Regions from separate parts of the Homo sapiens genome. Here region 1 is linked to region 2. Evidence: fine-mapped expression QTL. A gene starts in region 2. The other region holds a variant in brackets. All regions are shown on one strand. Distances are between the middles of the regions.

What was found. PIP is the estimated chance that this variant, and not a neighbour inherited with it, causes the effect.
Region 1: its variant is the best candidate, but not a certain one, in a credible set for the expression of TMEM45B in whole blood (INTERVAL, PIP 0.77).

The regions. Positions count from the first base shown.
Region 1 is chr11:129,849,692-129,852,599 of GRCh38, reverse strand. TMEM45B (transmembrane protein 45B) reads right to left here. Exons shown (of 6, transcript NM_138788.5): 2 at 1-125. The coding sequence starts at 117. Among named protein-coding and RNA genes, the nearest start is that of TMEM45B, 35 kb to the right of the region's middle. The variant T/C (reference allele first, on the strand shown) is at 1,615.
Region 2 is chr11:129,814,603-129,817,510 of GRCh38, reverse strand. TMEM45B (transmembrane protein 45B) reads right to left here and starts at 1,663. Exons shown (of 6, transcript NM_138788.5): 1 at 1,613-1,663. It overlaps LOC124902793 (a long non-coding RNA gene), which reads left to right and starts at 2,824. Exons shown (of 2, transcript XR_007062952.1): 1 at 2,824-2,908.

The DNA of each region.
Region 1 (2,908 bases), 35 kb before region 2:
TAGTGGGCTGTTCTTCCGCGTGTGGCTAAAGTACTTCAGCGGGTACTTCACTGACCAACACAGCCCAATGATCAGGAAGAAACTCCCTGGAAGCGCGTGGCCCTTGAAATTTGCCATCAGGACACCTAAAAAATTAGGGGAAGGCTGTTAGGTGGCTAATGAAGCAAGCAAACAAATGTATATTTTGGCAGGAAACACAATACGTGCCTGAGATTGCAAATCATAAGCCACGTTAAGAAGGATCAACACATTCTCATAAAACAAGCCTTATGTTACGTCACTGAAGTCTCATCTGTAAAGTGAGTTGCATAACCAACTGGACTCCACTGTCTGTAATGCTTTAAACATGTGGGTAAAATAAAAGGATGAGGGTGGGGAAAGAGGAGGATAGGTAATATTTATTGATCTCAGATAGAGAAAACTTCCAAGCCATAAACATAAAGGGGGGAACTAGAAAAGAAAAACGTTCAGCTATATAAGCATCTTTTAATATCAAGAACATCAAAAGGTAAACAACAAATCAGAAACATGCTTGTAGCAGTTGGCTATTACATTAGAGTCTTTACAAATTGATAAGAAAAAGACCGTAGAAGAATAGGCAGAAGACATGAACGGATGATTCACAAAATAATACAAACAAATTATAAATCTCCCGGAAATTAGAGATGGGCAAACGAAAGCACAACATCATTTTTCACCCAACTGGAAAATAATTTTATAAAGTTTTGGTGTGGTGGTCTAGTACAAATGAACCTGGTCAATATGATTCACAGTTTGTAAAAATCAGCATAACGATGTAAACATCACCTTATTCCAAAAATTTTCAGGCATGATTTGCTGTTATCCCATTTGCAGTAGCATGAAACTATAGCTAGGATTTATTCAGAAGTAGATTGATTATTTTCCCCACTGGCCTGGGTGGTTACCTAAAGAATATGTAGGGTGGGAGAAAAATACCAGTTGTTGGTGATTGCTGTGGTTTGAATGTGTCCCCTCCAAAATCCAGGTGTTGCCAAGGTGATAGCATTAAGAGAAGGGGACTTTTTTTTTTTTTTTGAGGCAGAGTTTCACTCTGTCACCCAGGCTGGAGTGCAGTGGCACGATCTTGGCTCACTACAACCTCTGCCTCCCAGGTTCAAGCGATTCTCCTGCCTCAGCCTCCCGAGTAGCTGGAATTACAGGCACCCGCCACCACGCCTGGCTAATTTTTATATTTTTAGTAGAGACGGGGTTTCACCATGTTGGCCAGGCTTTTCTCGAACTCCTGACCTTAGGTGATCTGCCCACCTCGGCCTCCCAAAGTGCTGGGATTACAGGTGTGAGCCACCACACCCGGCCGAGAAGAGGACTTTTAAGAAGGGACTAGGCCATGAGGGCCCCTCCCTCCTGAACTAGGAGCAGATGCCCTCCCTCATACAGGGGTTGGCTGGAGGGAGCTGGTCCCCTGTTTGTCCTCCTGCATGTGAGGATGCAGCCCTCAGCAGACACCAGATGCTGCTGCCTTGATCTTGGACTTCCCAGCTTTCAGAACAGTGAGAAATAAATTGTTGTTCTTTATAAATTACCCAGTCTGCGTATTGTGTGATATCAGCACAACAGGGACTAAGACAGAAA[T/C]TGGTACCAGAGGAGTTTATAACATTTATAACCAGGGGTTATAACAAATATGTAAAAATGTGGGGGTGGCTTTGGAACTGGATAATGAATACAAGCTGGAACAGCTTTGAAGTGAGTGCTGAAAAAAGCCTGGATTGCCATGAACGGAGCACTAAGGATGATTCTGGTGAGGGCTCAGAAGAAGAGGAGAGCTGTAGATGTGGGATATGAGCTGTGGGGAAAGCCTCGTTCTTAGAGATTGCCTAAGTGGTCATGAACAGAATGTTGATAGAGATACCGATGGTGAAGGCAATTCTGATGAGGTCTCAGACAGAAATAAAGAACAAGGTATTGGAAACTAGAAGAAAGGTTATCCTTGTTAGAAAGTGGTAAAGAACTTACCTGAATTATGTCGTTTCCTAGGACTTCATGGAGGGCAGAACTTAAGAATGATGACCTAGGATATTTGGCAGAAGAGATAGAAAGCAAAGTGTTCAGGATGCTGTGTGGCTTCTCTTAACTGCTTATAGAAAAACATGAGAGGCCAGGTGCGGTGGCTCACGCCTGTAATCCCAGCACTTTGGGAGGGCGAGGCAGGCAGATCACCTGAGGTCAGGAGTTCGAGATAAGCCTGACAAACATGGTGAAACCCTGTCTCTACTAAACATAAAAAAATTAGCCGGGCGCGGTGGCAGGAGCCTGTAGTCCCAGCTACTCGGGAGACTGAGGCAGGAGAATCGCTTGAACCCGGGAGAGGGAGGTTGCAGTGAGCCGAGATCGCGCCATTGCACTCCAGCCTGGGTGACAAAAGCAAAACTCCATCTCAAAAACAACAACAACATCAACAAAAAAAAAAACGTGAGAAAAGAGAAATAATTTGAAGGCAGAATTTACCATCAAAAGGAAAGCTAAAGGTCAATATCTGAAAAATTCTCAGCCTAGCCATGAAAAAGAGAAAAACGTGTGTGTAGGAGAGAAAACCACGGGTATGGCCACAGGACTGATAAGCAGGTTAGTATGTGTAGAAGGAAGCCAGGTGCTAGTTATCAAGAGAACGGGAAAATGACCCCAAAGTCATTTCGGAAAATGACTCCAAAGCCATTTCGGAGAATGACCCCAAAGGCATTTGGGGCTGCCTTGCTCATTAGAGGCCCAGAGGGTTAGAGCCTTGCGGCAGAACAGTTTCAGGGGAAGGGCCCAGGCGCCTGCGGGGTCTCAGAGATCACTGCCTAGGGCCACCTCAGGTCTCTGCTCCCCACATTTCCAGCAGAGCATTCCTCCGTCACCCTAGCTGTGGCTCAAGCAGGACCAGGTG
Region 2 (2,908 bases):
GGTCATGCCTCACCTTCTGCTTATCTCAGTCACCTCCACTTGTAAAATCAGTGGGCCATATTCAATAAAACCTTCATATCAGTTCCATATCTTTTCCCAGAAACCCCAGGAACAGAGGGAGCCAATATCCTTATTAAACCAAGAAGCTCACTGTCACAAAGAGCTAAGTCTGACGCCCCTGGGCCCCTACCTAACCACGTGTCCTGATTCTTTCCATAACTTCCCACTGCACAACATCCAGGTTATACTGAAGATATTACACATCTGGTTAAAAACAGTACACGTCTCTCATGAACAATAAGCCATCCTTTCTATTAAAATGAGTGTAAAATTGCAGGTAAAATGCTGTAGGCAGGCCTGTTTGGAAGGCTATGCGACCCTAGGAGACAAAAAGGTGCAGGAGGAGGAAAAGGGCAGACACCGCAGAAAGCGGTCGAAGAGAACGTGAAAGAAGTGGCCATTTCTAGCTGGGCGCGGTGGTTCACGCCTGTAATCCCAGCACTTTGGGAGGCTGAGGCGGGTGGATCATGAGGTCAGGAGATCGAGACCATCCTGGCTAACACGGTGAAACCCCGTCTCTACCAAAAAAAAAAAAAATACAAAAAATTAGCCGGGCGTGGTGGCGGGCGCCAGTAGTCCTAGCTACTCGGGAGGCTGAGGCAGGAGAATGGTGTGAACCCGGGAGGTGGAGCTTGCAGTGATCCGAGATTGCGCCACTGCACTCCAGCCTGGGCGACAGAGCGAGACTCCGTCTCAAAAAAAAAAAAAAAAAAAAAAAGAAGTGGCCATTTCTGCAACTTTTAGGAGAGCTACCTGCCCTCAAATTTTGAAAGGGTTTCTATTTCTTAAAGTGCTACGTTTCCCTGGCTGAAACTCACATCTTTCTTCCCTCTAGGGCTGGATCAAAGCTTCAGAGGTTGTTTCTCTGGCCCTAGACAGGGCCACCCCCGCAAATTTCTCCCCCACTGCGCCTGACATCCGCTTCCATCCATGGCTCCATTAACGGAAGCTAAGCACTGGCTCGGGGGACTTTATCCACCGCCCGGTGTTATTAGATTCCAGGCTTCCTGGCCTCAGGAAAGGATCTGGCTCGTGTATTTGTGTATCGCAGCTAACAAGGAAAGGCAGTCGGTACCAGTGCCCAGAGCTATGTGAGCTGTGACTGGTCACAGCCCAGGAGCCAGATGGCATCCCCGGGGGCGCGCGTCCCCGGACTCACCGGGCAGACGGAGGCCCGGGGCTTCACACCTTCCCCTCACCGGGCAACGCGGCAGACCTGACTCGCGGGGGACTGAGCAATATTCGTTCCAGGGCCGCGGCCAGCCGGACAGAGGCACTCGGGGGCGGTGGGAGTAGTGTGCGCACCGGTTCCGCAGCCCGGAGGGGGCCCCAGCTGGGCTTCCGCGACACCAGGGCCCTCCATCCCCTCCCGTCCTCCCCTAGCGCAGCCTTCACCCCTGTCCCAGAGCCCCTCCCTGTCCGCGTCCCCTCCCCCGCAGGTCCCCTGCGAGTCGGAACCTCCTCTCCATCACAGCCCCGCTCCTTGGCGGGGCCCCCTCTCCCTTCGAGCCCTCCTCCAGGTTCGAGCCCCCTGCGGGTACGGACGTCTGACCTGTGCCCAGCGCCTCGCAGCCGTCTGCAGCCCGCGCCGCGCGCCAAGTGCGTCCGCCCAGAAGCAGGTGCAGCTCCAGGCCCGCCCCGCCCCGCTGCGCCCCGCCCCGCTCCACTCCGCCAGGCCTGGCAGCCGCCAGCCCCTTTCCACCCTTGACCGCCCTTCCCGGTCCCGGCCAGCGTGCGGGGCATCTGTCGTCAGGTCCGCACTTCCTCCAGGCCTTTGACTTTCCCGTGGAGATGTCTCTGGCCTCAGGAACTCCCTAAGCTGTGTGCTTCAGGAGAGGCTGGTTCCTGAGTCACCCAAGAGGACTGCAACCAACCTGGACCTCCTGAGATGCAAAGAGATCGCAGGGCCTGGGAGGCGGCGAGGACCCTGAGAACAGGCTGTGGCTCCGAAGAGTGTTTGTTACCAAGCCAGGCAACCACTGCGAACACACCGCAGAAACAGCCACGGATCACCGTCCAGCAAAGGAAGAAGGTGCCAACGGTCCATCAGGGACCACAACCCAGTTTTTTTAGTTTAAGTTTGGTGGCTAAGTTTGAGTGTCACATAGTTCATTCATTCCTTCATTCATTCAACAAATCTGCCATGTTCCCATCTGATAACAGATCTGACAGGTGGGCACTGTTCTAGGTGCTGGCGATAGAGCTAAGAAGGAAACAAAGTTCCTGTCCCGGAGAAGGGGGCTACCTGCTGAGGAGAGCATGACTTTCTTTGTGGTATTGTGCTGTGGCAGCAGGGTCCTCTTCTGTAAGCTACTGAGAGGTGAAACCCGCTGGGCTTCTGGGTCGGATGGGGACTTGGAGAACTTTTCTGTCTAGCTAAAGGATTGTAAAAGCATCAATCTGCACTCTGTGTCTAGCTAAAGGTTTGTAAACACACCAATCAGCACTCTGTAAAAATGCACCAATCAGTGCTCTGTGTCCAGCTAATTGGTGGGGACTTGGAGAACTTTTCTCTCTAGCCAAAGGATTGTAAATGCACCAATCAATGCTCTATGTCTAGCTAAAGGTTTGTAAACACATCAATCAGCACTCTGTAAAAACGGACCAATCAGCACTCTGTAAAATGGACCAATCAGCACTCTGTAAAATGGACCAATCAGCGCTCTGTAAAATGGACCAATCAGGAGGATGTGGGCAGGACCAATCAGGAGGATGTGGGCGGGGCCAATGAGGGAATAAAAGCTGGCCATCCGAGCCAGCGGCAGCTGCGTTTGGGTCCCCTTCGATGGTGTTGGGGTTTTGTTGTTTCGCTCTTTGCAATAAATTTTGCTGTTGCTCACCTTTTAGG